4 linked regions of the Homo sapiens genome follow. The protein of the gene in region 1 interacts with the protein of each later gene in a pairwise test. Each region holds a gene or a part of one and is shown in the gene's direction. Other genes may lie near its edges.

Region 1 (8,280 bases):
TTTCTGCCCATATAACAGCATGGTGGTGCAGGATATGGAAGGCATAGAGTCAGTATAAATACTGACACGTAGTCCTTTTGCAAGAGTGAGGGCCTGAGTTAAGGCAGTGAGTTCGGCTTGCTGAGAGGTAGTGGAGGAGGGCAGAGCGGTAGCCTCAATGATAGATGTGGAAGATACTACAGCATAGCCTGTTTTGCTGGTGAGTGGCAATTAGGCCTGGTGGAACTGCCATCAGTAAACCAAGTGTGATCAGGATGAGGAACAGGAAAGAAGGAAATATAGGGAAATGGAGTGAATGTCAGGTGGATCAGAGAGATACAGTCATGGGGGTCTAGTTTGGTATCCAGAATAATGTGGGAGGCCGGACTGAAGTCCGGGCCAGAAAAATGGTAACTGTGGGAGACTCAACAAAGAGTGAGGATAGCTGAAGGAGTCGGGAAGCAGAAAGTATATGCATCAAGTGGGAGGAAGAAAATAGATTTTGGAAATTATGAGAACTGTAGAAAGTGAGTTGAGCATAGTTTGTGATTTTTAGGGCCTCTAAAAGTATTAGGGCAGCAGCAGCCGCTGCACGGAGACATAATGGCCAGCCTAAAACAGTAAGGTCAAGTTGTTTGGACAAAAAGGCTATGGGGCGCGGTCCTGGTCCTTGTGTAAGAATTCCGACTGCACAGCCCTGCACTTTGGCTGTGTGTAATGAAAAGGGTTGGGATGAGTCACAGAGAGCTAGTGCAGGAGCAGTCTCTAAAGCTGTCTTCAAGGAACGGAAAGAGGAGTGGGGAAAAGATTTAGGATCTATAGGGTCGGCTAGATTTCCTTTTGTGAGTTTATTTAACGGTTTTGTTAGGATGGCAAAACCAGGTATCCAAAGTCGAAAGTATCCAACCATGTCCAGGAAGGAAAGGAGTTGTTGTTTTGTAGAAGGGGTTGGGGTTTGAGAGATCAGTCAGACATGATCGGCAGAGAGAGCACGTATGTTTTTATGAAGAATTATGCCGAGGTAGGTAACGGATGGAGAAGAAATTGAGCTTTGGAGGGGGATACCCAATATCCCTTGGAGAATAAATGTTGAAGGAGCAGGAGGGTGTCCTGTTGAGAAGATTCAAAGGAGGGGCTACAAAGTAGAAGGTCATCAATATATTGAATAAGGTGAGAAGCAGAAGGGTGGAAAGAAAGTAAATCAAGAGAAAGAGCTTGGCTGAAGTAATGAGTGCTGTCCCTGAAGCCTTGCGGCAGTACAGCCCAGGTAAGCTGCTGGGACTGATGGGTGTCAGGGTCAGTCCAGGTAAAAGCAGAGGCTGGGACGAGGGGTGTAGGGGAATAGTGAAAAAAGCATCTTTAAGATCAAGAATGGAATAGTGAGTTGTGGAGGAAGGTATTGAGGACTAAAGAGTGTACAGGTTGGGCACTACAGGGTGGATAGGCAAAATAATTTGGTTGATAAGGCGCAGATCCTGAACTAACCTGTAAGACTTGTCCGGTTTTTGAATAGGTAAAATGGGAGAATTGTAAGGAGAGTTTATAGGTTTTAGAAGCCCATGCTGTAGCAGGCGAGTGATAACAGGCTTTAATCCCCTTAAAGCCTGTTGTGGGATGGGATACTGGCATTGAGCAGGGTAAGGGTGATTAGGTTTTAATGGGATAGTAATGCGCGTGTGATGGGTTGCCAGGGAGGGAGTGGAGGTGTCCCATACTTGTGGGTTAAGGTGGGGGGGATACGAGAGGAAGACACAAAGGAGGCTTTCGGTTGGGAAGAAGGGTGGCAATGAGATGTGGCTGTAGTCCAGGAATAATCAGGGAAGCAGATAATTTGGTTAAATATTTCAGCCTAATAAGGGAACTGGGCAAGTGGGGATAACTAAAAAGGAGTGCATTAAAGAACGTTGTCCAAGTTGGCACCAGAGTTGGGGAGTTTTAAGAGGTTTAGAAGCCTAGCCGTCAATACCCACAACAGTTATGGAGGCAAGGGAAACAGGCCCTTGAAAAGAAGATAATGTGGAGTTGGTAGCCTCTGTATTGATTAAGAAGGGGATGGACTTATCCTCCACTGTAAAAGTTACCCGAAGCTCGGTGTCCGTGACGGTCCAGGGGGCCTCCAAGGCGATCGGGCAGCATCAGTCTTCAGCTGCTAAGCTGAGAAGATATGGGAAGGAGTCAGTCAGAGAGCCCCGGGCCAGAGTTCCAGGGGCTCTGGGAGTGGCTGCAGGGCAAGCTGGACAGTCTGATTTCCAGTGGGGTCCCGCACAGTTGGGACACGGCTTAGGAGGAATCCCAGGGCTGTGGGCATTTCTTGGCCCAGTGGCCAGATTTATGGCACTTTAAGCAAGCTCCTGTGGGAGGCGGTCCTGGAGGAAAGCCTGGCCACTGCGGTTCAGACGTTTTGAAGTTCTTGTGTGCTGGAGATGTGGCTGGGGTTTCTCTCACAGTGGAGGCAACTAATTGCAACTCAGAAAAACATTGCTACTTGGCTGCCTTTACTCTATTATTGTACACCTTGAAGGCGAGGTTAATTAGGTCCTGTTGTGGGTTTTGAGGGCTGGAATCTAATTTTTGGAGCTGGCGGCTTGGGTGCGGTGGCTCATGTCCGTAATCCCAGCACTTTGGGAGGCCAAGGTGGGTGGATCACTTGGGCCCAGGGGTTCAAGACCAGCCTGGGCCACATGTCAAAATCCTGTCTATACAAAAAATACAAAAATTAGCCAGGCATGATGCACCCATAGTCCCTGCTACTCAGGAAGCTGAAGTGGGAGAATCACTTGAGCCCAGCAGGTTGAGGCTGCAGTGAGCTATGATCCACCACTGTACTCCAGCCTGGCAGACAGAGCAGGACCCTGTCTCAAAAAATACATATATATATAATCTGGGCTTGATGGTACCTGCCTGTAGTCTTAGTTACTCAGGAGGCTGAGCTGAGAGGATGGCTTCAGCCTGGGAGCTCAAGGCTGAAGTGAGCCATGATTACACCATTGCACTCTAGCCTGGGTGACAGAGAGACTCTGTCTCCCTCTAAAAACAAACAAAATTCAGTCTAGCTCTAGACCTAATGAGAATCTTCATCTTAGCAAGATCCCTAGGTGATGTGTGTACACAGGAGTTTCTTAGAGGCAGAAATCACTTCCCAGCAGTGTCTGAGGATGGCATCACTTCAGCCATCATCACCAGGGCTGGGGACCTGGAGATTAACAACGATGTAGTCCCTGCCCTCAAGGAGCTTGCAGGCTAGCAGAGAAACAGACAACCAGAGGAACAACCACAGGACTGGTACAAAGGTAGGGGAGTAGCAGAGACGGCTTTACAGAGGAGGTGGCTCTGAGATGCTTAACCTTTAGTGCTAGTAGAGGCATCGTTTGTTCTAAGAAAATTTGCTTTACATTCTTTAAAGCATGCAGAGTTGATCAATGCAACACCTCTTGATTTCCTGATAAGAGCTTTCAGAGGGTATCATCTTTGAGCAGCTCCTTACTCAATGGAGTGGTGCAGTGAGACCTCTGAGCCTCAATTTCCTCATCTGCAAAATGGGACAGTTTGTACCATATTGGCGTTACTGAAATTATCCGTGTTTTTTTTTGAGACAGAGCCTTACTCTGTCACCCAGGCTGGAGGGCAGTGGTGCAATTTCGGCTCACTGCAACCTCTGCCTCCTGGGTTCAAACAATTCTCTGCCTCAGCTTCCCAAGTAGCTGGGAATACAGGTGCCCGCCACCACACCCAGCTAATTTTTTTTGTATTTTTAGTAGAGATGGAGTTTCACCATCTTGACCAATCTGGTCTTGAACTCCTGACCTCGTAATCCACCCACCTTTGGCCTCCCAAAGTGCTGGGATTACAGGCGTGAGCCACCGTGCCTGGCCTTATCCGTGCTTTTATTTGAGCCACAAAACCACCCTGTGAGAGAAGCAGCATGGTGTGGAAGGACTTCCATAAAAACTTGCTAAACAGAAGATACAAAAAGAATGCTGCTAAACAGTATGTTCAACTGTGAAATCATTTTTGTTTAAAAAATGCATATACATATTCTATAATTTTTTTAACATTTTAACTATATATAACTAAATAGACATATAGAAAAATGCTCTATTAACACTGATTTTCCTGGAGAGTGGAAATAGCACTTTATACATTTCAACACTTTATTTTCAAGGACGTGTACTTTTTAAATGGGAACATTTTATTTTTATTTTTATTTTTTGAGACGGAGTTCACTCTTGTTGGCCAGGCTGGAGTGCAATGGCATGATCTCAGCTCACCACAACCTTCACCTCCCAGGTTCAAGCGCTTCTCCTGCCTCGGCCTCCCGAGTAGCTGGGATTACAGGCATGCACCACCACGCCCGGCTAATTTTGTATTTTTAGTAGAGACGGGGTTTCTCTATGTTGGTCAGGCTGGTCTCGAACTCCCGACCTCAGGTGATCCACCCGCCTCGGCCTCCCAAAGTGCTGGGATTACAGGCATGAGCCACCACGCCCAGCCGGAAACATTCTAAACATACGTAAGTATAACAGGAGATTAGAAGTCATGTTGATTCTGCGTGGCTTGATTATGGATCATTGTCTTCCTCTCATCGCAGATCCTCATTTTTTCGGTTTTCTGTGATGCGCTTGTCCCCATATGGGGCTCTGGCGTCTTTCTGGGTCTGGAGGTCCCCAGCGCCCTCTGCCGAGGCATCTCTTGGTCCGGCGGTCCTCAGGCTGGAGGGTGGAGCGGAGAAGCCTGGTCGACGTGGATGGACTCGGTGGGCCGGCGCGGGGCCCGTTAGGCATCTTTAATAAGTTTCACCGGGAGCCGGGTGGCCGGGATGGAGACGGCTAAGCCGCGAGAAGTTTACCTTCTACCACAGCGTCCACAGTACCCGGCTTGGCCTCAGGCCTCGGGTCCCGACGTCCTCCCCAGAGCACAAACCTACTACAGGTTAGGCCGGAGGCCGCCACAGCCCAGGGTCTCTGCCACCTGGCCCGCCCCCTCCGAGGCGCCGGAGAGCGATTCCCAAGGGGCCTGCCGGAGCGTGGCGTCACAGGAGCGTCGCGTCACGTGAGGCTGCCATCCAATCGCGGCGCGCGCTCTGCCCTGCGGGCAGCGGGTGCCAGGCACGGTGTCAGCAGGCAACATGGCCGAGAGGCCGGGGCCTCCGGGCGGCGCCGTGTCCGCGACCGCGTACCCTGACACCCCCGCGGAATTCCCTCCGCACCTCCAGGCGGGTGCGATGCGGCGCCGCTTTTGGGGCGTATTCAACTGTCTGTGCGCCGGCGCGTTCGGGGCCCTGGCCGCCGCCTCCGCCAAGCTGGCCTTCGGCAGCGAGGTCGAGCCCGGGGCGCTGTTGGTGCTGCTGCTGCGGGCGGGCGGGCGGGGCGCCGCTGGGCGGAGGAGGGGCGCTGCGGGGCCCGCGGGGCTCTTGGGGTGGGGCGGGGGTGGGCGCAGGGCGCCGCCGCACCCTCGCCGGTCTGTCCCGCCGGGGCCCCGGGCCGCGGGCGGCGCTGCGGTCAGCTGGGGTGGCAGAGAGTGTTTCGCCTCTAATCACGCCAAACCCTCGTCCAGTGTAGGTGGTAAGAGACGTCGGGGACTGAGGCCTCTTCCCTTACCAGGGACCTAAAACCTTTTCTCCGGTTGGGCTAGTTCGCTCTCGGGGAAGAACTACACCTCCTACATCCACCCTCTACCTCTCATTTTAAGTCCCTTGTGCCTGAGCATTTCTCTCCACGTGACTCTTAAGGTGAGAAGCCTCTTGCCCATCCCTTTACTCCGTAATTAACGGGTGTTGTGACCAGATGACCAGTCTGCCCCACTACCAGGAAAATTGGGAGTTTGGGATACTGTAGGCATAAGAGGATACTGACAGAGACGTTCTGGATGTTTTCCTGACGCTGAGAACTCCTAAACTTGCATCCTGGCGTCTGCTAAGGTGTATCTCTGCCTCTCCCTCCCACGTCGTAGACCAGCCTCTGCTTGCTATAGGGGTTTCATTGCGTCTGCAGCCCAAGGTTAGCCTCTGACCTGGACAGTGGTCACTGATTATTTAGGGTTAAGCCTATTTAGGGCTAATCCAGTAGTAGCTGCCATGCTTCAGGTTAGTATCCCATTGGGTGTAGTTCATGGGGTAAGTGGTCGAAAGTAAAATGAATAACTTTGTATGGGCCGTGAAGTTTGTTGTCAGGAACTAGACCTTCATAACCCTTTAAGCAGGTTGCCACTGGCCCATATGCTGCTTTGTGTAAGACAAGGTTGTCCAACTCGCGGCCCAACGCAAATTTGCAAATTTAAAACATGAATTTTTTTGCGATTTATTATTTTTTTTTTAGCTCATCATATATCATTAGTGTTAGTGTATTATATGTGTGACCCAAGACAGTTCTTCCAGTGTGGCCCAGGGAAGCCAAAAAATTGAACACCCTGGTGTAAGTTATAAGCAAGCACCTTTTTCTCAAGACACTATGTGTTCAGCTGCTGAGAAACCATTACAAGTAATAAGTATATTTAGATTCCGCACCCCCCCCCCCCGCCGCCTTGTCTCCAGGCAGGTTTCTAACTCACCACCAAGCAAGGGGGACTGCATATCCTTTGTGTAGGAGGCTTCTAAAGATCTTCTCTTCTCTTGAGACTTTCTCCTTTAAAAAAAAAGAAAGAAAATACCTGCAAGTTCTCCAAGGGATGTCTGGGATCACTAAATAGTCTGAGGTGGTGTTTCCCTCAGGCAAGGCTGTGCCCTAGTTAAGAGCATGGAGGTACACTGCCTGCTTGTGAAGCCTGGTGGCTCTCACCGCTGTAGCACTTTAGGAAGGTTACTTAATGCCCCTGGCTCTTTATCTGTAAAATGAAGTTAAGGAATAAATGAGAATGCTTAAACACAGCCCAGGACCTAACACAGAGTAAAAGCTCAAGAATACCCAGAGGGGGTCAGCCTTAGTGGGCTGTAACTTGTATAGGATTTGGGGGTGGGAATACAGAGCAGACATTGCTAATTCATGCTTTGCCTGATCTCAAGAAATAAGAACTCTACCCTAGGCTTACTACCTACGGAGTAAGAACTACTTGGCCCTCTGGGACTGATCTTCAAGCACTGGTCATTGTGGGACCAATAAGGGGCCGGTGTTCAGTAGAAAATACTGGCTTTGGATTAGCATTTTGCTTCTTCCCAAGATCATATGGCCAGCAAGGTGGCCAAATGAGTATCTTCTCTGAATTTGCTTTATTTGTAAGATGGGTCTGCTGCCCACTGAGGGTTAAGTGAAGCCCTGTGCAGGAAAGCTCTGAGGCCCTCTGAGCTGTAGTGGGAGCTCAGTAGGAGCCTGGGTGCCAGCAACCACAGTCCTGGGTGTGCTTTGAGGGGGTCTGCAGGTTGCTGCCCAGGGTGGACGTGGCTGCAGTGACACTTTCTCCTGCAGGTGAGCATGGGTTTATGCGTCTTAGGCATTATTGTGATGGCGAGCACCAATTCTCTGATGTGGACCTTCTTTAGCCGGGGCCTCAGTTTCTCCATGTCTTCAGCCATTGCATCTGTCACAGTGACTTTTTCAAATATCCTCAGCTCGGTGAGTAGCCTGAGGGTGTGGTGCTCTTGTCCTAAATCTGGGTTCTGGGTGAGTTGTCTTTGGATAACCCCTCCTTTCCCAGACAGGAGAAAGGACAGGAACTGAAGCAGAGGTTGGGCTGTGGCTTGACCCCTGGATGAGTGCTCTATTCATGGAGCAAATGTAATTCTAATCATGGAAGAATTCTTAAGTTAGATATGAGTGAAGCCTGACAGTAAAAAGCCTACTTGCTTGCTGTTCCTCCAGGGTGGAGCCCTCATTCTGAAGTCACTGTGCATCCTAGCTGTTTCCTAGGGTTCTGTGTACTCAAGGCTCCATGGCATTTAGAGGGTTGGGATTCCCAGAAACTTTTCTGCCCTGTGTAGTCTGAGGTTGACAAGATGGAGCTGAGCGTAGTCAATCTTGAGTTGAGGGAGAAACAAATACCATGTACCTGCTGTGTCTACCTGCTGGCATCTGCTGGGTCTTTCTTGTGTACTTTGCTGAGGTCCAGTGCAGTGAGGGAGGTAGCCTCTCCACTCATGCAGGGGAGATTGAATAGAGTGACTTGATGAAGGTGACAGCTAGGTTTCAAGCCCAAGGCTTCTGGCTCCAGACCTTTCCTCCTGGCACCCTTAGAAGGAAGTCAGTCCCAGGAGAGTGAGGTTGTGCCCACCTGCTGAAGTTGAGTCCCTCACAGCTATCTTTGTCTCGCAGGCCTTCCTGGGCTATGTGCTGTATGGAGAGTGCCAGGAGGTCTTGTGGTGGGGAGGAGTGT
Region 2 (7,282 bases), on another chromosome or scaffold:
CATATGAAAGAAATATAGAATATTTGCATCTCATCAGAAGCACTAAAGGAAATATTAATGCAAATACATGCAGAAAAACAAACATAACTAGTATAGTATTATAACATGTAAAGACATGGAGGAATTTCATCCAAATATTATTAAAAGGTTGGGAATTGTTATGCTGTGGATTAGGGGTTGACAGTTACTGTAGCTTCCATGATAATCCTGGGAGGCTGAATTTTTGAAAGCTCTCTGACCCTGCTGAACTAGAAGGGCTAATTTGAGAAGGGTATGGTGTAAAATGTGGCCTTTTATAGGCTGAAAACAGGGATTTGTTAAGTGGTTGTTGAATGAATGCATGCCTTGCATTGTTGGGCAAAGAAGTGAGGGCATTGCTTTTTTCCCCTGGAGTAAGGAATGAAGTAAAAGGTCATTGAGCTTTGTAGAGCACATATATTCACTAAATACTAGGTTGATGAGTTGTTGACTTGAGGATAAAGTTATTATGCCAGCATAGAGGAGGATCTGGGAAAAGCTCTAGGAAGGGTTCTTGGACACTGAGGAAACCTTGAATATCAACAAATGTGCTTTTGGATTTGGCAGAAAGGATAGAGAATAGAGGAATAGTGTGAAAAAATTATCTACTCTTTATTTATTCATCAAATATATTTTTAGGTACTTTGATAGGCCTTGCAATACAAGAATGAAACACCCAGCCCCTCTTTTCAGGGAGAAAACAGTTTAAAAGAAGGTCACTGGACAGTGTAATGAGTGCTGTAATGGAATAGTAACATGTGCAGGTGCTCTGGTCATGCAAAATGCGTCCCCTGACCAGTTAAAATTTTCTTGATCCAGTTTTCCTCACCATTAGTCTATTCTTCCTCCTAATAATTATTTTTAAAAGTAACAATTTTCAGAAGTTAAAATAAACCTAAATGATCATGTAGTTTGTTACTGCTCAAAAGGGGATGGTCCATGGAATAATGGCATAGCATCAGTTAGAGCTTCCTGGAAAATGTGGTCTTCTTAGAAATGGGCTGCATGGGCTGGGCATGGTGGCTCACGCCTGTAATCCTAACACTTTGGGAGGCCAAGGTGGATGGATTGCTTGAGTTTAGGAGTTTGAGACCAGCCTAGGCAGCATGACAAAATCCTGTCTCTACAAAAAATACAAAAAGTAATAGGGTGTGTTGGCGTGTGCCTGTAGGACCAGCTACTTGGGAGTCTGAGGTGGGAGGATGGCTTGAGCTCAGGAGGCTGAGCCTGCAGTGGACGGAGATCGTGCTACTTTACTCCAGCCTAGGTGACACAACGAGACTCTGTCTCAAAAAAGAAAAAAGAAAAGAAAAGAAATGGGCTGCATATCTGACCCACTGTCTCAAAATCTGCATTTTTACCATGCCCACCCGCCCCCCTCCCCAACCTGGTGATTCGTTTTCTCATTGAAACTGGAGAAGCACTAATCTGGTTCACCTACTTCCCATCCAGTTTTACAGATGGAGGAAATGAAGATAGATTGTGCTCCTAAGGTCCTATGCACAGTAGCAGAGCCAGTGTTAGAACTCAGCCAGTCAGCTGGTCATGGTGGCTTCTTACTAGTGCCTCTTTCCTTCTCTCTTTTGGAAATTCTCTGTTGAATGAGAGAACAACAGTGCACCACACTATATATAAAAAAGAATGAACATTTTTATTTACTTATAATTTGTGGCATCAGCAACTCAGGAGGCTGAGGCAGGTGGATCACTTGAGCCCTGGAGGTGGAGGCTGCAGTGAGCCATGTGTGCACCACTGCCCTCTAGTCTGGACAATAGAATGAGACTCCATTTCTTAAAAAAAAAAAAAAAAAAAAAAAAAAAACCCAGTCACCAGTCTACTTACTGGTAGGGTCTTGTGTGCTTTCTCTGATGCCTCTGTTATTTCCTGTTTCTCTTTACTTTTTTACTCTTCTATTGGCCTCTATTAGTGTTTCATATTGTAAGATCTTCAGCTTCTCACTAGTGTCTCTTTCCCTCTCTCCTGTGGTAGTCCTCTCTTTAAATTTCTCTGTTGAATGAAAACGATACAGCATACCACACTGTACATCAAAAAGAATGAGCACTTTTACTTACTCTTAATTTCTGGCAGAGGTTTGGACCTATTTCTTTAATTTTTTTTTTCTACCCGCTACTCAGAACTTTCTTTGAAGTCAGTAGGAATTCTGTGTGTGGTAAGGGTGAGAGATAATCTATGATGTTAGGAATTAAAATCTCCTCACAGATACATTTATCTTCCTTTCTTTGTTACATGGAGTATGGCATTAATCAGAGTACTTTTGCTCTTTGTATAAGTCTCATGGGAAAAACAGCGCCTGCCTTAAAGTTGGTGGAAAAGAACAGGATACCACAGCAACTCCTTCTCTGTGACCTAGAACAGAGAGTTTGTCTAAATGTTTCTTCTCTAATATAGGGGGTTTGTCTAAATCTTTTTTTTTCTATAATATAGAAAAAGAAATACCTAAGTAGATGCACACCTCATGTTTTATAGGGGGCCTTTAGCATAGAAAGATATGGTCATAGAATGATAATGAACATAAAATGATAAAATGCCATTAAGAAAAGTGAACAGTCACTGATAAGACCTTCGTGGCACAACGCCTTTTTAACAAAAGTCAGCCGTGCTATCTTTTAAGTCATTTCCTCCTTGTGAGAAGTTTACCATCTCTCCTGTGGTTCAAATATATTGGTTTATTTTTAACTCTGAAATGTGTTTGATTTGAGTGATATAGCCATAATCTCTATGAATAGTAGACCTCCTTTTAAAACTATGAAATAAAATCAGTTTTTCTGTTTTCCTGGTTCCCATATGTGTTTTTCTTTCAAGTCATTATCACCTTTTTTTCCCATATCTCGAGTCATCAAGCAATAGCTCACCTTCTTAACAACTCTGATTTCATTAAAACCATAGTTGTGTCATTTCCTGACTTTGCAAATTGTTTGATTAAATATTGTGTTTCGTATCTTGTATCTTACTGTCTATTGACAGTATATAGACACAGATTAATTTTTTAAGTAAGGTATTTTAATACCTAGTTCACTAATCCAGAAGCATTTTGCATATACAGGCTTTAGTAAAAATGACAGTTTAAATAGGGAGTTATTATGATCAACAATTAAGTTAAATTCATTTAGGTTGGTTCTAAGAAGTTGAATTTTCTTTTACTACTTTAAAAATACATTATTTCTTCAAAATACGACATAAAATGTTTTGCATTGCCAAGAATAAACTAGAAATTAGATTTGCAACCTTCAACTGTTGTTTAGCTTTTAGAAATATAAAAATTAATATTAATATATTTTTATAATGTGTTAAAAGATGAATTTTTGTTAATCCCATCCATATTTCATTATCATGCTTGTTTCAGAAATGTTTTACTTGTGGCAACATTCCATTATAAAATTGATTTATGGTTGTGTATTTGAATATGCTGGACAATCAATTCATTTTAAGTAAAATAATGTGTTGCATTTTATATATATAGTTACACATATGTAAGTTATGCGATTTACAGCTCTAGAGAAAAACATTCAAGTTAGTTATTCATGGGAATAAAATAGGTGCATGTTCTCAATGAAAAAGTTAGAAAAATGTCTTGAATATGGTGACTGTTTACATTATAGAATTGTAATTAACCCTAACTTAATCTCTCAGTGCCCCTGTACTCTTGTCTTCAGTGTCTCGAGATATTTCAGCAAATGGCTACCATCGCCCCGTACGTACCTCTCCAGTTACATTCTTGCCTGCTTTAGGAGTGGACACACAGAGCAGCCTCCAAGCTGCCCTGATAAATTTCACGTGTATAATATGGAAGACAAATGTTTCCTTAACATATTTATTTTCTGTGTATGAAGTTTTTCATTAACTTTTCATCCCAAGATAACCACCTCTGTTTTTAGTGCGCTTTATTTCTTGTTTTTGTTCTGTAGGGTCTCTGTAAAACATAATGTGTGACATAAGTAATGAAGCATAATTTTCAAAAGCCACTTGCAGGAGTCAGTATTGTTTCTTTGGTTTTTATACCATGTATTTTTTGTTGGGACTCAAAGGACAGTGATCCGTATTTAGTCAAATTAGGAAATTAAGTTGAAACATCTTGATTCCTAAAAAGTGTATTTTATAAAACATTTACTGATTAATGAATTTTATGGTATTTTGTTCTCTCTATAGATAAGCGTGTGGAAAATTGGCCTCTGATGCAGTCTCCTTGGCCTACACTAAGTATAAGCACTCTTTATCTCCTGTTTGTGTGGCTGGGTCCAAAATGGATGAAGGACCGAGAACCTTTTCAGATGCGTCTAGTGCTCATTATCTATAATTTTGGGATGGTTTTGCTTAACCTCTTTATCTTCAGAGAGGTATGTTTTTAAGATCACTTTAATAATTTTCCAAGGTTATTGGAAATTTAAAAATGAGAATGTGTAAAACCATCATTGTAATATTTTACCCAGACATAACTGTTAGCTACTCTAAAAGTACATTTTTGACATTTTTCACTTTTGAATAACAAAAATATTAAACATGAGGTATAGGAAAGTTGTTTAAAGTGGAATTTTGAATAAGACCAACTGGATTCTAAAGTAACCCTTATTAGCTGTTCTGGCATTGAAAGTTATTTAACTTTTCTTAGCCTCGTTTTCCCCACTTAAATACCTACCATCTCAGGTTATTATCGGAGTAAAGTAAGATAATTTTTGCATAGTGTTTGGCACGTATTAAGCACTCAGTAAACAGTAGCAGCTATTTATTTATAATTCTTATTCAGTAGTTTCTGGTTTGGTAACTGATCAAAATATGCCAATTTCAAGTAAATCCTATTACATAATGTTGTATTTTGGGCTGGAATTAAAATGAATTAACTGCCATATAGCTGTTGTTACTAATCATTATATACTTTTCTGGGCACTAGCAAATTCTCCACAACATTTTCAAAGGAAATCCTAAAGGCTAGATTGACACAGCCATTTTTTAAATTGCATATGTATAAAGAATTTGTTTCCTAAGAGACTCATTAAAATTCTGTATGAAGCCAGAGAACTGACTAGTAATGCTAGGAAAATAAACAATAACTCTTCTTAGAAAAAGAAATATTTCTTTACTTGAAAACTTAGCCTCGAGTCTCAACTTCATGAACACTTTAATTTATTTGGATACCTGTACCTAATTTGTTAGATGCAAACCACTCTGGATCAAACATAGAAACCAGTTAAGGTAGGACAACTTTGAAATCTGAGTCCTAGCAATAAAAATTTCTCTTAATACTGTGAAGTATTTAATAGATAGAGTCAATGTTCAGTATAAAATTTACATGTGATTTTTAATTTAGATTTTAATTATAGAACAAATTAATGCACAGTAACTTCTAGCAATCGGAATGCATGAAATTTTTAATGCATTTGAAATTTTTAAAGAAAATATTGTGTTTAAAATAATTTGAAAGGCTACATTTTGTATATAATTGTGTTTTTAATGCTGTGTTTACTAAAACTTTACTACAAATATTATTACTCTTTTTCCAGTTATTCATGGGATCATATAATGCGGGATATAGCTATATTTGCCAGAGTGTGGATTATTCTAATAATGTTCATGAAGTCAGGGTAAGTACATTAAAAATACTCTTAATCAGTAAAAGTGGTTTGATTTTTATAGGCCCCAGTCTGTGAAAATATAGAATGTACTTTTTTTTAAGAGACAGTTTCTTTAACATTCATTTAGAGACAGTTTCTTGCTCTGTCCCCCAGACTGAAGTGCAGTGGTATGATCATAGCTCACTGCAGCCTCAAACTCCTGGGCTCAATTGATCCTTCTGCCTCAGCCTCCCAAGTAGCTGGGACTACGGGTGTACCCCACCATGCCTAGATATTTTTTTACTTTTTGTAGAGACAGGGTCTTGCTATGTTGCCCAGTCTGGTCTTGAACTCCCAGCCGCAAGGGATCCTCTTGCCTCAGCCTCCCAAAGTGCTGAGATTACAGGTGTGAGCCACCACACCTGGCAAAATGTACTTTAATATGATAGTGAAATTATACTAGATTGTTATGAGTCAGTAAAACTATGCTTTTTTAAAAAGTACTTAATTTAAAATTTGTTTTTGTATCTCAAAAATGTTTTTTATTTTGCAGCATGAGTGAATATGCATTGAATTACTAGAATGCAGTACTTGTTAAAGCAAAGAAGTCTCATGTTTATTTTAAAGACATTATTTTAGATTTTTGTTTGTTTGTTTTTGCTCAAGAGTAGAAACTCTTAGAGTCCAAGTTATGTGTTAAGAAAGTGAGGAAAAGTAAATGTTTTGTGAAGTGTGGAATATTTAGGAAATTAGGCATAGAACAATTTGTATTGGCATAAACTCAGTTTTTTTATATTTGCAGAAAAATAAAACACTAGTAACAAGATGTTATATTTTATTTTCCATTCACTTACATGAGTAAAATTAACATTAAGCAAAAGAAACAACAGATTACCTTATTCTATTACGTATTTATTGAACTCTTCTTATATACTGTGGTTCATACTAGAAATTACATATAAAACATAACATGTTTTATGTTACCTATAGTATATGTAGTAATAATATCTAGTGGCTTCCCTTGAGAAAAATAGTTTCCTGGCATGGGGAGTGGACAATATATAAATATCAGTATTCATCAAGACTGGAGACAAAATTGGTTTAATGTACTTAACAATTTTATGTACGTATCTTCATTTCCCTATTAGAAGACTTATGGACTGATGAAAAATCACCTGTCTTGGTTGTCATGTTGGTTTTATTTATTCATTAAATATGTATTGAGCATCTACTATATGTTGGTACTGGGGACAGGGGTGAAAAGCCCTGCCTTTGTGGGGCTGGCATTTTAGTGAGGGTGAGAAGGCAGACAGCAGCCATGTAAACAAATGACTAAGGAGGAAATAAAACCTAGAAGGTGACTGAGAGAAAATGAGAGACTACTCAGATGTATTGGCTATGAAAAATTTTCTTCTGATAACTATTGCCAAAGAATCTCTTCAGTTGGAGGGCTGACTTCTTGCTTGCCGTAGGGAAGGGAACAGGGATAAGTGTTTGACTGACTGACTTCTGGGAGTATGCATAGAAAAACCCTTGGGTGGGGCAACATATTACTATTTTTAGGATAAAGGTTTAAAAATACCACTCTCACTTACAGATGTAAATTTTCAAGTCTTTAAAAAATGAGCTATTATGAGAACTGTAATCTAGGAGGATAAAGAACCTGAGATTTGCAACAGATTTCATTTGAAATCTTC
Region 3 (8,177 bases), on another chromosome or scaffold:
TTCCCAAAATGCTGAGATTACAGGCGTGAGTCACCGTGCCCGTCCAACATTGGTGTTTACATAGAATGAGAATATAAAGGTAACATGTCACCTTATCCATAACACCTTTCCCGAGCTAGGGATGTTGGGTGTGTTTCTGCAGTCCCAGCCACTCAGGAGGCTGAGGTGGGAGGATTACTTGAGCCCAGGAGTTTTGAAGCTCTCGTGACCTATGATCACCCCACTACACTCCAGCCTGGGCAACAGACTCTGTCTCTTTATTTAAAAACAACAGGCTGGGCGCGGTGGCTCACGCCTGTAATCCCAACACTTTGGGAGGCCGAGGTGGGCAGATCACAAGGTCAGGAGTTCGAGACCAGCCTGGCCAATATGGCGAAACCCCGTCTCTACTAAAAATACAAAAATTAGCCAGGCATGGTGGTGGGCGCCTGTAGTCCCAGCTACTTGGGAGGCTGAGGCTGGAGAATCGCTTGAACCCAGGAGGCGGAGGTTGCAGTGAGCTGAGATGGCGCCACTGCACTCCAGCGTGGGCAACAGTGTTAGACTCCATCTCAAAAAAAAAAAAAAAAGACCTTTCCTGACTACCCTGTTTAGAATAACAACTCCTGCTCCAGCACTACCAGTCCCACTTTCACTACTTTATTTTTCCTGTAGTATTTTCACCATCTGAGATATAGCTATAGATACAGATATAGATATATTTTTTTAATCTGTTACTTAACCCTACTAGAATGTAAGCTATTTAAGCTCTGTGAAGGCAGGAATTTTACATTTTACTCACTGCTTTTCCTTAGCACAATGTCTGACACATAGTAGGTATTCATAAATCTTTGTTGAAGCAATGCAAAAAAATTAATGGAGAATAGTAAAAGAAGGACTTGGATGCCCATGACCCAGCTTAAGAAATTATAGCACACATACATATACAGCAACTACATGGTTGAAGCCCCCATGTACCCTTCCCCTTTGCATTTCCCCGCTTTTCCTCCCCAGAAATAACCTCAGTTTTCTTGTCAGCCCTTTAAAAGAAAGCTGTCTTTATTCTCTTCACCTTAATATGCCTGTTCACTTTTTTCAATAACTTTTATTGTGTGTTCCAATTTCACAGGTAATATATCCAAATCAGAAAACATATAAGCACGAAGGGAAAAAATAGGCCATAATCCTGCTTTCCCCTCTTGTTTTAATGCATCCTTATTAGCTGTAGAACCTTAAGGAAGCCTCTTAACCATATAAGGAAACAAAGTTCTCCAGGTGTTCACTGTGGCCTTAGTTTCCGCAGTTTCTCCTCTGTAAATTGGGCATGATAATAATAGAACCTACCTCATAGGATTCTGTCAAGGATTAAGCAAAGGTCCACATAAAGAGCTCAGCAGCAGCGCCTGCCCAGGACATAGTAAGCACATAAATGATGGTGATCAGATGGCCTTTCACATAACTTCATTATTCTTTTTTGAGTACACACCTCATGCCCTATGTGATTTGTAAATGACTGTGGGGATTGATACAGGAACGCACAGTCCTTTTTGGGAGTTTCCCCACTAAACCAGTAGGCTTACAGTCAAGGTAGAACGTACATTTGCATGGGGCTGCTGTGAACTGACTTTGCTGTACACCTTCTCTAGGTGAAGAACATCATTTACCATGCAGTGAAAGATGCGGTTGGCACCCTCAAGGCTCATGAATCCAAACTGGCAAGGTCCTAGGCATGGAGAAACTCCAAGCTCCTCTGTGAAGCAGGTCTTTCACTCACAACACTTAACAGGGAACGGCAGGGCTCTTTGCTGGAGCAGAGGCCCTTCACCCAGAGCCAGTGTGGTCAGTATTCCAAACTCTCCAGCCACTCTCTTCTACGCTGCCTCAACACTGAAGGTTGACACAGGAAAGTCGTACTGTTCACACACACAGTTTGAGACTCCAAGCCAAGAGTGCCACATCCCTATCCTGTGGCCTTTTGGAAATCCAAATTGCCTGAACATGGCGGGGCTTTCCTGCACATTCTCCTGATTTGAGATTCACGGGCACACCTTTCTTTTCTTTTCCTCTTGTGCCTAGTTAAGTGGAAATGTGTTTGGAGATAGGGGAAATCACATAACTGGTACAAGTATGGGGTAATTGCTTAAACATGCCTGGTGGAAGTCTGATAGCGTCTCTGCACGTGACCTCTGACAAAGCCCATCCCAGGAGACGGGGTGAAGCTATTCCCCACACTCTCCTGTGAACACTGGAGTCTTGCAAGACCCAGGGAGAACCCACTGCTTTTCCCAGGAGGCTCCAGGATTAGGAAATGTGTGTATTTAGTGAAAAATAGGTTTGTAGTGAAATAGTTACTATTTCATGAAAGTAGATATTTTTAGAATTTTTGAAATACCACAGTTGTTTTCCTGGATTATAAGGAAAGGCACATTACATTTAGTCTTCCTTTCGATATAAAACTCTTTGAAGAAATATGATTTTTAGAAATCAGCTACCCATTATAGCACAAAATCAGCCAAAGCAGAATTTTTAAAAATTGGCTTTTTTAGGATTCTTTTTCTCCCCCTCCCATCTTAGTCTTACCTTGAGGGAACAGTCATATGAGAAGGAACTTTGTCACATCTAAGCTGTGGTGTGTTCCCCATGTGTGTGTACAACACTGGTGACTCCAGGAACCATTTTCACCTATTACCAGTGTTCCCTGGGGACTCCTCTTAATGTTTCCAAATGGGAAGGACAGTTGATTTCCAACATGAGGTTTTTTGTTTTTTATCCAGAAATATTTTCAGCAAAACTTTCCAACTGAGTGGAGTCTGATTAAGGATTTATTTGAAAATGGTGGGATTCATTGGCCCATAGGTACATTGGAAAATGTATATCTCTCCAGCTGTACTGTAGTGCCCTGCAGGCTGTTTATATGTTCACAGTTACTTTTTTTTTTTTTTTTAAATAAAAGTCATTTAATGTAGAATACTTTTAATTTCACTTTCTGTATTTTAATTTTGTTGAAGGGCTGATTGGGATTTCCATGTTCTTATTAAAAATCTAACAAATCTGTTTGGAGTGGACTAAATTATTCGTGTACCAACCCTTCTAAAATCAACATCAGATTGGGAGTTGGGTTGGAGGTGGGGGATTCATTTCCAGGTCTTCATGACTGTGCTACACCCAGATATTTTTCTTTGCTTGTTGAGACTGTGCCATGTTAGAAAAAAGGAAAGTGCCAGGGTGAGGTCAGTATGGTTTGGGGAATTGGGGGTAAGGGGAAGGGGCCACATGAATTAGAGGGTAGAAAGAGAGACATGTTTCCCCATACTTTATGCTTTGTGAATGGAGTGGGAAAGTTGGGGTCCTCCCTTCCTGTGGCAGAGTCTGGGGGGAAGGGTCATGGTGTGTGGCCTCAGCAAAGTTGGACAGTCTGTGGTGGGATTCTTAAGCAGGCAGCCTGGCTGCCTACATGAAACGTGTGGCCATAGATCCACCTTAGAGATGGTGGGAGACACTCATGTGGGATTTATCAAGCAGTAATTAAAGTGTTTCATTGTGGGGTGATAACAGACTGCATTCCAATTAGGAGATGTTTTCTGGAGAGGAAGTTGTAAAGAATAGCAAGAGGGGTTATCAGAGGCTGCTTTTCTGGAACGTTTTGGGAAACATCTTCCAAAGTGTTTGAACCTGGAAATATAATTTACCAGGTTAGAAATAGACCATTGTGTTGTTCAGGGATACTGAGCTTGAATAAGACCATGACTCTTTGAAATACACAGTTCTGAATGTGTCCTTTCAGCCCAGATGGGCACAGGTTGATGCTGTGGTCACCCGAAGGATTACAACTCAACATAAAGGGTAGAGGAATGCAGAAGCTCTAAAATGGGACAGGAAAGGAGAGCAATAGGGCTGGGGGTGTTGGTGGATGGTTGGAGGTTGGTTGCTTTCCTGAAGATCAGGAGGCAGGCTAGCCTACATTCTGGATATAAATGTCTTTAGAATCAGGACATTCACTGCCACTAGTGCTTGCTGATGGGGGTGGAACTGGAGCCCCAGGACCCTCTCGCAGCCCCTCTGTTTGAAAAGAAGGTTGACCCTTTGTTGTCAGTAACCACATTGAGAGCATAAAGCTCTGTTCCGCTGCAAAGCTTAGGAGCTGACAACCTAAAAAAGCAGACCAGCAGCCCGGTGGCTCACACCAGTGATCCCAGCACTTTGGGAGGCTGAGGCGGGTGGATCGCTTGAGCTCAGGAGTTGGAGATCAGCCTGGGCAATATTGCAAAACCCCATCTTGGCAAAAAAAAACAAAAAACAAAAAAACAGGAATTAGCTGGTGGTGTTTTGGGCCTGTAGTCCCAGCTACTCGGGAGGCTGAGGCGGGAGGATCATTCAAGCCCAGGAGGTGTGCTGAGATTGTGCCACTGCACTCCAGCCTGAGCGACAGAGTGAGGACCTGTCTCAAAAAAACAAAACATCATCTGGTCAGGGGAGATCCTCTTTCAACGGGGTGAGAAGGAGTGGGGTGGACAGGTGCGGCTGTACCTGTGACTCAGGAGCTCAGGTGGATGTCTTCAGGGCCTGTAATGAGGAGAGTTTGCTAGTCAGCAGTTGGGGGATGTAACCTGTTTAAAGTAGGCTTCCTGGGGTCATCTTAGCAGCATGACTTGGTGGCTTTGTGACTCTCAACAGATTATTGAGCCTTAAGCTTCTCATTCCCTTATCTTCAAAATGAGGGCTTTTATAGCGCCTGCCTTATAGGGTGGTCAAGAGGATTCACTGGCAACGCAGTGAAGCTCTTAGCACAGGGGCTGGCACACAGTAAGCGCCTGGTGTGGGCAGGGCAGGAGGTGGGCAGGGGTCGATTTCAGGATGTAACCATGGAGACCTCCACGACAACAGCCTAGGGCTTGAAACCCAAGAAAGATGAACAAGCGATTCGAGGAAGGCAGGGCACTGAGGGTCGGAGGCGCATGCCCGGCCACAGCAGGTGCCGGGGCGGGGGCGCGCCGCCGCCGCCGCGGCGGCCTCCCGGCCTCCCCTTTAAGAGCCGCCACCGCCCACGGCCCGCCGCTGCGGCAGGGACCTCCCCTTTAACGGCGGCGCTGGGCGCTCCGCTGCCCCCGCGGCGGCTGCTGCAGCGGCTGCTGCTGCTACTGCGGCTCCTGCTGCCGCCGCCGCCGCCGCTCGGCCTCAGGCAGCTGCATCCTCGGCCGGGCCGGGTCCCCGCCCCGCGCCGCGCCCGGCCCCGCCATGGTGTCCTGGATCATCTCTCGCCTGGTGGTGTGAGTGCGGCGGCGGCGGGGGGTGATGCGGGCTGTGATGGAGGGCGGGGGTGTTAAAGCCCGGGTGGACTTCTCCGAAGCTTCGTGCAGCAGAGTCACCTAAAGGCGCTGCGTCCTTATTTGGGGCCCCCAGAGACATGGAGATGTGGCACCCAGGACTGGAGGGGGGAATATTAGGGGAGCGTGGCAGGCCTGGCTTCCCAGGGACCTCACCCACATTCTTTATTAATAACCTCTTTTATTTCTACCGTCCTTGCTCCTGCGCCCATCCTAGAGGCTGAGCAGCACGGCTTGATTTAAAAGGGGAGGCAGGCGCGTCCCCTCCCCCACCTAGCAGGTCTGGGCTGGAGGAGATCCTCAGACCCGGGCCCTGTCCCTCTGGGGGAGGTAACAGGGTGATGGAAGAGAGTGGAGCAAGGCAGGGCCTCATCATCATTCCGCAGCTCAGAGCCATCACCAGGCCCCTTGGTCTCTCCCTTCCACTCACTGTCAGGAGACTGGGGACGAGGGCATATGCCCTTAGGCCCCCTAGGGAGGAAGTCTGGGTATCGGGAAGCAGAAATGCTCGGAGGACAAAGTGTGAGAGGTAACTGGGAGAGGGGATGTGTGTGCTCAGCCTGGGATTGTGGACCCCGCTGGGGGAGGACGCTCCGTGGCCTTCATTCCAGGCTGCCAGCCACACTGTGGAGCTGTGTCTCTGGCACCTCCCCGGGCCCCAGGAGGGAACACACACCATTCCCCACGAGCCCAGACTTTGTCCTTGAGGATTCTGCTCCGCACTCCACTTGCACCAGCCGGTTTGGAAGTATCCCTCCTGTCCATGTGGAAACAGGCGACAGCCACACATTGTCAAGGGGCTGAGCCTGACAGGGGCTCCTCGTGGTTCTCGGAGCTATCCCCTGCCCTAATGAGGACACTGCCCCTCGGCCTCCACCGTTGGGGACTGACACCGGCAGCCCCACCCTGCTCCCTTCTTCCCATTCGGTACAGCCGGGCCGGCCAAGTGCTTCTGTCCTGGTTTACTCTAGACTCCTTCTCTTCCCCCACCCATCCCAGGGGGAATGGAGGGGCCTCACGCCTCCATGTGGCCTTCAGGGTGGCTGCTTCTCTCTTGCCTGGGCAAGCCCCAAAGGGCATCGGTCCTCTTCTTTCCCGGCCTGTGTCTTGTCTGCATTCTGTACTTGGATCACCAGCGGGGCCCTCCCCTGAGCCCTGTCCCTGTGGTGTTTACATGGGGGAATAAGCCTCTTTGCCTCTCTCAGGGCCTCCTGCCCCTGTGCCCTCTGTTCCCTAGGGCCCCAGGGCCACAGTGGTACCTCTGCCTGCCAGGTAGGGTGCCCTGTTAGGTGGTGTCAGGTTCCCTCGCAGAGCCTGGCTCTGAGGGAGGTGGAGGGTAAGGGCAGATGGGTGTGAATGGGCATGAGGTCAAGAAGGAAGACACCCTGTGGCAGTGACCTGACTCCCAGTCTCCATGACATATTTGTGTGTAACCAAGGATCATGGCGCAAGGGACTACATTGGACCCTCTGGCCTCTGGGCCTTTCCCTGCCTCCGGGGCTAGAGAAAAACTGAACAGTGGAGCGGGGAGGGGGCATCACCCTACCTGGCTGGGCATGTTCCATGCTGCTTTGACCTTAACCCCTGACCTGAGTTCATCAGTCCAGCGGGGAGTTCTGTCTCTCTTCCCATTACTTACCCAGGGGCTGATGCGGAGCTGGGAGGGAGAGGCCACTGCCCTTGGCTGAGAGGCCCAGTAACCATGCCTGCCTCCCTAGGCTCATCTTTGGCACCCTGTACCCAGCCTATTCTTCCTACAAGGCCGTGAAGACAAAAAACGTGAAGGAATATGTGAGTGGATGACCCTTCACCCCCTACCCAACCCACATGGCACAGAGAGGGGAGGGCACTGGGTCCTATTACAGATGGGGGTGACTTTGCACCAACACTGTCAGCCACTAACAAGACCCACCAGCAAAGGAGGGCCCTGGGTGTCCCACACAGCGCCTCCAACATGGCTGGCAGGCAGAAGTGGGGTCCTTGGTGTTCTCCCCAGCCCAGGCATGTTCAACAGGCAGAGCTGGGGTCCTGGGTGTCCCTGGCCCCTCAGCCCCGTGCCCCAGCCAGCGCTTCCCTCTGTCCCTCAGGTGAAATGGATGATGTACTGGATCGTCTTTGCCTTCTTCACCACGGCCGAGACGCTCACGGATATAGTGCTCTCCTGGTGAGGTCCAGCGTCCCCTCCTGTATCTCAGGGCCCAGGGCCTCTGCCTTTCTCTACCCAGCCAGCCAAACAAAAGACTGGGCCTGGGGGTGAAGCTCCTCCCATTCCTGACAATTTCATGGGGTCCTTGATATCTCCCCTCTCATGCCTAACTTGACCTGCAGAAGAACAGACATAGTAGTGCCAGGCGAGGGGGCTCACACCTGTAATCCCAGCACTTTGGGAGGTCTAAGTGGGTGGATCATTTGAGGTCAGGAGTTTGAGACCAGCCTGGCCAACATGGTGAAACCCCGTCTCCACTAAAAATACAAAAAAAAAATAGCTGGGCATGGTGGCGCCCCTGTAATCCCAGCTACTAGGGAGGCTGAGGCAAGAGAATTGCTTGAACCCAGGAGGTAGAGGTTGCAGTGAGCCGAGATCGCGCCATTGCACTCCAGCCTGGGCAACAGAGTGAGACTCCGTCTCAAAAAAAAAACAAACAAACAAGGAGTAAGAACAAACATAATCCCCATGTTTCTTTCTGGCGGCAGCCAGAGCCCCTCAGTGGAATTCAGGAAACCCGCTTCTGCCATGCTGCCTGCGACCTTAGGCAGGTCACAGCTCTCGAGGCCTCAGTTTCCTTATTTGTAAAATAGGCATATGATTCACTCCTATAAATGCTGGATACTTGCATTTCCAAGGCATTTTCCAGGCTGTACTAGACTACGTAT
Region 4 (7,282 bases), on another chromosome or scaffold:
CTGAGTAATCATCGAATTAAAAATGGATATCATACTATAAAGTTATGCATTATAAGTAATTGACATTAAGATAATTGGTTTTTAGAATATTGTGGCTGTCTCGGAGAGTATAGTTGTGGGAGTGAGTGCAGCAAATGCAACAGGATTATCATAAGAACGTAAGCGTTTGTTTCTATTTTGAGTTAGTCTCCTGGCCTCTTCAGCCTAGTGTTGTTTACCTCACAGAGGCATCAGAGATTTTCATCAGAGAACATGGCTTCCTATTTTTATTCAACTTTGAAAGGTTAGGGGTAGTCTCAGGCATCCTAGCTCAAACTACCCTTGACCCCACTTATAGTGTTTTCTTACTCTTTTTCTTAAAGTTCATCTTTTTTTTTTTTTTTTTGGCCTAACCCACTGGTTCTGAACAGGATAGGGAAGAGGAAACATCTGTGTTTTGAAAAGCATCCCCAGGTGATGCCGACAGGCCGTGGTTTCTGAGAAACACCACCCCATTGTAGACCAGTTAACTTTTAACCGTTCACTAGCAAAAAATTGTACAAGTTCTGCCTCAAACTGAAACCATCACCATTTGTTTTATTCTTCTAAAATTTTTATTTCAGTAGCTTTTGGACTGCAAGTGGTTTTTCATTACATGGACGAATTATATAGTGGTGAATTCTGAGATTTTAGTGCACCATCACCCGAATCGTATACATTGTACCTAATGTGTACTTTTTTTATGCCAGCCTCCTTCCCATCCGCCCCCATCACCATTTATGATGAGACTTTTAGACCTGAGTTTAAGGAAAACTAAATGAAGAAATAAAGGCACTATGCATTACAAAAAAATCAGAATTTTAAGTTTATAAAGTTCCTTATTTATGGGTCACTTAGATATAGGCTTGAAACGAATAAAGGGAATATTTTTTAAAATTATGTACAAAGCCAGAATGTCAATGTATTAAATTACAGTGAAATTTAGAACTTACACAGACTAGAATAGTTACATTGGCATTACCAGTGAACCATTCCTCCCTCTAGGCTATTGATTTGTTCTTTAAAAATGTATTAATTATTGAACACCCGTATAACCATAACCTAGATTTAGCAAATGCTGCCGTAAGTGCATTGTTTATATTTTCTGCTGTATGGTTTCAAAGCAAGTGATAGATGTCATGACACTATCCTAAATACTTCAGCATTTGTTTCTTAAGAATTCCATTTTCACACCTAAGAAAATTAACAGGCGGGTGCCGTGGCTCACGCCCGTAATCCCAACACTTCAGGAGGCCAAGGCAGGTGGATCATTTGAGGTCAGGAGATCGAGACCAGCCTGGCCAACATGGTAAAACCCCATCTCTACTAAAAATACAAAAATTAGCCAGGCGGTAGTGGTGCACACCTGTAATCCCGGCTACTTGGGAGGCTGAAGCAGGAGAATCACTTGAACCTGGGAGGCGGAGGTTGCAGTGAGCCGAGATTGCCCCACTGCACTCCAGTCTGGGTGACAGAGTGAGAACCTGTCTCAAAAAAAAAAGAAAAAAGAAAATTAACAATACGTCTCTAATAGTATCTAATACCTAGTCCCTATTCAGATTTTCCCCTCATTCCCAACATTTCTTTTCAGCAAAATTATGTCTCCTTGATTTTTTTTTTCACTCAAGAATAGCTTCCCTCTTCCCTTTTCATTCCCAATGGCATTGGCTTTTTTAGACACTAACCAGGTGTCTTGTTCCATCTGGATTTGTCAGATTGTTTCCTTGTGGCATCTTCTATTGTTTCTCTGAGTCTGGCCCTTGTATCCCCTGGAAACTGGAAGCTAGACCCTGCATCAGGTTCAGGTCAAACCTTTTTGGCAAAGCTGCTTAATAGAAGGTGCCATGCACTTTGGGTAGCTTCCCATCCAGAGATGTGGCAAGGATGGCAGGTTGTTCCACTGTTGGAGATGCTGAGTCTGACGTTGGCTTAGGATGACAGACAGCTGTCTACCCTCAGCAGAGTGTGCTTTTCCCTCTCAGTCTGAAAGTAATCTGTTTGTGACCCTTTGGCATCAGCTCTCTTGCATCCTGCCTGAATCAGTAGTTTCGTTGGGGTTGGAAAAATGGTGATTTTCTTTTTTTTTTTTTGAAACAGGGTCTTGCTCTGTTGTCCAGACTGGAGTGCAGTGGTGTGATCAGAGCTCACTGCAGCCTCAACCTCCTGGGCTCAAGTGAACCTCCTTCCTCAGCCTCCCCAGTAGCTGGGAGTACAGTTGCGTGTCAACACACCTGGCTAATTTATTTTTTGTAGAGACTGGGTCTTGCTGTGTGTCCCGGGCTGGTCTCAAACTCCTGGCCTTAAGTGATCCTCTCGCCTTGGCCTCCCAAAGTGCTGGGATTACAGGTGTGAGACATCGTGCGTGGCATGATTTTCTAATTACTTTTACTTTTCTTTTGTGTTTATTAGCTGTCATTCTTCTCTACAGAAGAGCTTCTCCTCATCAACTGGGGATGATTACAGTTCTTCCTAAAAAAGGTAGGATAAATGCTCAGTTCTTTTTATTTAATTAGCAATTTTCAAAGTAAAAAATCAATATAATAGTCCCATGCAGTTGTGGCAAATTATCATTTTCATAGATTTTTGTATATTCAGTATATTGAAATGAATGACAGTGATTATGCCTTACTGTTTAAATTACACCAAAATTGACCAGTGGGAGTCTCTTCATGCTGCCAAACTGTAAATGACATGTAAACAAACAAAATCATAATACCATCATGGAAATCTGAAAGCTAAATATTTGATGAAATAAAGGAACGTTTTTTAATTGGGATAATATTGTGAATACTAAAAAGATTAAGGAGTACCTCTTAGAGATACATACTATTTCCTGAAAAAGTAGGATTTACTTTGAAAGCATTCCTGGATGGTTGGGGGGAGATAGTTGAGGGGTAAAGATGAAACCCAGCTGCTGTTTATTATCCAGTTCTTTCTGTACAAGGTTAAAAAGTTCCCTAATAAAAAGTTTTTAAATTATGAATTTATGTTGATAGCTGCAATTTAAATGTAATATTACAGGTTGTTTTAACTTTGTATTTATATTTTTATCTATAAGGGCCTGTTTTGAAGAAACGTATATTTTCAATTTTGCTGATTTAAAGCCAGTATTGAGTTAGTATTAAAGCTTAATTGCAATGAATTGCATTGTTTGCTGTATACATCAATAAAAATTGAAGTTTCTTAAAAATTTAAACTAGTGGCAAAGAACTTTAAAAGTTATATACTTCCAGTGTTTTTCTTTTTTTTTTCGTTTTTTTTGAGACAGAGTCTCGCTCTGTCGCCCAGGCTGGAGTGCAGTGGCGCAATCTCGCTCACTGCTAGCTCCGCCTCCCGGGTTCACGCCATTCTCCTGCCTCAGCCTCCCGAGTAGCCGGGACTACAGGCGCCCGCCACCACGCCCAGCTAATTTTTATTTTATTTTTTAGTAGAGACAGGGTTTCACTGTGTTAGCCAGGATGGTCTCGATCTCCTGACCTTGTGATCCGCCCACCTCAGCCTCCCAAAGTGCTGGGGTTACAGGCGTGAGCCACTGCACCCGGCCCTACTTCCAGTGTTTTTCTATTCTTTCCCTTTCCTTTGTTTCCTTCTTGGAAAGTGTTTTTAAAGCTTTTTTAAAAAACCTACGTCATTTTTCTGAAATAGTCTTTATTTTGTAAATAAAATTTATTTTCAAGTATAAAAATAACACTTATAAAAAAACTTGAGAAATACTGGCAATTAGGAAAAATAGGGGAATGAATTGCTTTTGTCTTCAACATTTTTATAAATTTTTTTCATCTTTTCCTATATCTAGTTATTTTGTTTGCTTGTTTGAAAAAAATCAAATTTTGAAATTTTTTATATTTTAATATGTTGATAATTTATTAAACAAGGCACTTTAGCTCTTATTCATAACTACTAAGGGAAAAAGATAGCCAGTACTGAGTTAGTATTAAAGCTTAATTGCAGTGAACTGTTTTGTCTACTGTATATATCAAGAATATTAGAATTTATATCTATCTATTTAGTAACATGATTTTACATGTGATAACTTCTACATCATTGTCGCTAATACAGACTTTGGAAAGAAACAACACTGATTTTAGACATAAAGTTTATAGAGCAGGCTTGTGAGCAGGAACTTAAGAGTCCCCTAGCAGAATACCTAGTGACATTTGGGACTGGATGCTGCTGCTAGTTTTCTGATAAGTGAAAAAAAAATCTTCTGTGATCTTTTCAGATTTTTCTTCTTTTTTGGTTTGGGGGCTTCCTCCATTCACAAAAGATCTGACTTTTTATTAAACAGTATGTCAGTGATTTAAAATCACTTTGCTCCCACCTTAGAGCCTTTACAGCATCTACAGCTGGAGCCACCAGCTGGGTAATAACCATAAATCAATGCATGTCATACACTGTGGATGGAGCATCTGGCCACAGATACTCACCATTACTGACGGGCATCTGAAATGCCAGCTAGAAATGTGAAGGGTGTAGTTTGTAGGCATTCGTGACACATCCGAAGGTGTAGAGGTTAAATGCCAGCAGCCCTGCCATAGCTCCTTGGCTGTTTCCTTCGGCCCGTGCATTCATTCGACATGTGCATGCTGAGCCAGGCTCTGAGCTGTAGTGCCGGGGAACACAGCAGTGAACAAAATGGACAAAGTCCATGTTCTCATGAAGCTTTCATTCCAGTGAGGAAAGATTATGAACATATATGCAAATAAATATAGAATGTGTCCAGCAGTGATGAATGCAGTAAAGTTTTTAAAAGGCAAGGTAATGGGTTTGAGAGTGTTGGGGTGTGCTCTTTTATGGAAGGGTCAGGGAAGGGCTCGCTGAGTAGGTAGCGTTTGAGCAGAGACGAGGTAAATGAACCATGAGGCTATCTGAGGGAAGAGTGTTGCAGGGAGAGAGAACTTCTGGGTGCCAGGACCCAGAGGAGGGGTGTGTTCACTGTTCACAAGGAACAGCAAGGAGGCTGGAACAGAGTGAGCCAGAAGAAGTACGGTCGGCACAGGCCAGTGGGCATGGTAGAGAGCTTAGCTTTTACTTGGAGTGAGATACTAGCCAGGGGAGGGTGTGGGCAGAGGAGGAACGTGATCTGACTTACGCATTTTTAAGGATTGCTCTGTGTGCCCTAGCAGTAATAAACTCCAGGCTGTGAGGGCAGAGGCAGGAAGAGCAGTCGGGAAGCTGTTACTGTGATGCGGTTTTACTGTGATGCAGTTGAGCGGCGCGGCGGTTTGGGAGTGGGATGATAGCAGTAGAGAAGGTGAGAAGTGGTTATACTGGTTGAACGGTAGGTTTTGCGGATGGGTTGCTGAGAGAAAATAAAGAGTCAAGGATAACGTTGGTATTTTTGGCCTGAGCAACCAGAAGAATGTGTTGCAATTACATGAGACAGGGAAGACTGAGGGAGGAGCAAGTTTTGCATGGAAGGCAAAGCATTGAACTTTGAACACGTTAATCCTCAATGACTATTACATATCTAAGTGGAGAGGTTGGGTAGGCGGTTAACCCTACAGGTGTGGAACTCAAGAGAAGAGACTGGCACCAGAGCTATAAATTAGAGTGTTGGGTGTTACCAAACTAGGTAAGGAGGGTGTTGAGAATATGCATGTCCATCACTTTCTGTTGAATTTACCATATTTTTTTGCATATCACTCTTGAACATGACAGGTGAGAGATAAGTGGGTTGTACAGCCCAGTGGGCTCAAAGCCAGGGACCAGAGGGAACTTCCAGTTTTAAACACCCCAGGAGATTCTGGGACCATTCTTTGAGAAGCACCCTGAAGACACCTTCTGTTTTCCTCTTTCATCTTTGACAAGTCACACCTCTCCAAGTTTGTGATTCTCTAATGATTCCTAGCATGCCCTAGATGAGATGAATGGGTCCTCTCAGCACTCTTTCAGCCTGTACTTCTAAGATTTACCAAATACATGAATGGAAGGACAGAAAAGCAATTAAAAAATCAATGTGCCATTTGTAAGTGCTTCAAATTCAGTCTCATAACCATGAAGTAAAACCACTGTCACCATACATGCCTCTGTTAACATTTGGTAGTAATTAACACCTGCCTTACCTTGAGAATGATCTTTATAGTTTATGAGGTTAGCACTTTGATTTATGTCACAGTGTTTTCTGACAGGCTCAGTTATTCTTGCAGTGGGCTGGCTTCCTTCCTGGAGAGGTCCCTTTCCCATAGTGTGTTCCTATCTGCTATATACCATCAGATGTATTGAAAAATTGTTAACAGTTAATTATATTAGAAGTTTATCAATTGGTGTTTATGAATCACCAAGCATTTTATGTACTGCATCCTCATAAATAAAGCCCTAAGATGACACTCGCTTTTGGAGTTGGCACTACAAGATGCATGAGAAATACAGTTGATCCTAGAACAACACAGGTTTGAACTGCATGGGGTCCACATATATGTGGATTTTCCTCCACCTTTGCCACCCCTGAGAGAAGACCAACCCCTCCTCTTGCTCCTCCTCCTCAGCCTACTTGATGTGAAGACAATGAGGATGAAGACCTTTATGGTGATCCACTTCCACTTAATAGTAAATATATTTTCTCTTCTTTATGATTTTCTTAATGACATTTCTTTTCTCTAGCTTGCTGTATTGTAAGAATACAGTATATAATACATATGGCATACAAAATATGTGTTAATCAACTGCTTATGTTATTCATAAGGCTTTCAGTCAACAGTAAGCTATTAGTAAGTTTTTGAGGAGTCAAAGTTATACACAGATTTTCAACTGCACAGGGGGTCTGTTTCCCTAACTCCCAAGTTGTTCAGGGGTCAACTAAGTAGTCAAATGAGATCATGTGTACAGAAAAAAAAAAAAAGTGAAACCAAAATGCTATGTAAATCTGGTTTATTCTAATAGCCACTTGTCTTGGGGACAGTATCACCATGAGTTAGTCTGGCCAGAGTCACCTGCTAGTCCGCTTTATCAGTGTAGACTTCCTGTGTGTGGATCTGAAAGTCTAGAGAACAGCATTTCCCTCACACTTGCAGTTACAGCCTCCACAACCTCACACACACCCTGCCATGTACCACAATGTCAGACCAAGGGAATAAGTGATTGAATTTTAATGAACTCTTCTTACTACTTTCTTAGGATGGCTGCTCTTTTTCTAAAGAGGTTAACACTACAAACTGTAAAGTCTGAAAATAGTTGCATTAGATGTTTTGGTAAACACATCCTGCAAAAGACAGCACCAGCACAGTTGTCCCCTATTGCTTCTGCCCCAAGACTCTCCTTCCTA

The links.
Region 2: the proteins of TMEM42 (region 1) and ELOVL4 interact in binary tests that used the Homo sapiens proteins (3 or more experiments, as listed by UniProt).
Region 3: the proteins of TMEM42 (region 1) and REEP2 interact in binary tests that used the Homo sapiens proteins (3 or more experiments, as listed by UniProt).
Region 4: the proteins of TMEM42 (region 1) and MTIF3 interact in binary tests that used the Homo sapiens proteins (3 or more experiments, as listed by UniProt).

What each region holds. Positions count from the first base shown.
Region 1 is NC_000003.12:44,856,821-44,865,100, forward strand, and holds the start of TMEM42 (transmembrane protein 42), read left to right. Parts: upstream 1-5,091; 5' UTR 5,092-5,104; coding exon 5,105-5,296; intron 5,297-7,376; coding exon 7,377-7,523; intron 7,524-8,219; coding exon 8,220-8,280.
Region 2 is NC_000006.12:79,923,285-79,930,566, reverse strand, and holds part of ELOVL4 (very long chain fatty acid elongase 4), read left to right. Parts: intron 1-4,185; coding exon 4,186-4,373; intron 4,374-5,534; coding exon 5,535-5,615; intron 5,616-7,282. UniProt on the Homo sapiens protein: Catalyzes the first and rate-limiting reaction of the four reactions that constitute the long-chain fatty acids elongation cycle.
Region 3 is NC_000005.10:138,433,995-138,442,171, forward strand, and holds the start of REEP2 (receptor expression-enhancing protein 2), read left to right. Parts: upstream 1-5,062; 5' UTR 5,063-5,214; coding exon 5,215-5,246; intron 5,247-6,946; exon of another isoform or gene 6,947-7,021; coding exon 7,022-7,094; intron 7,095-7,390; coding exon 7,391-7,467; intron 7,468-8,177. Other genes in the region: KDM3B (lysine-specific demethylase 3B), read left to right, coding at 1,626-1,706. UniProt on the Homo sapiens protein: Required for endoplasmic reticulum (ER) network formation, shaping and remodeling. May enhance the cell surface expression of odorant receptors.
Region 4 is NC_000013.11:27,440,302-27,447,583, reverse strand, and holds part of MTIF3 (translation initiation factor IF-3, mitochondrial), read left to right. Parts: intron 1-2,427; 5' UTR 2,428-2,496; intron 2,497-6,341; exon of another isoform or gene 6,342-6,567; intron 6,568-7,134; 5' UTR 7,135-7,135; coding exon 7,136-7,282. UniProt on the Homo sapiens protein: IF-3 binds to the 28S ribosomal subunit and shifts the equilibrium between 55S ribosomes and their 39S and 28S subunits in favor of the free subunits, thus enhancing the availability of 28S subunits on which protein synthesis initiation begins.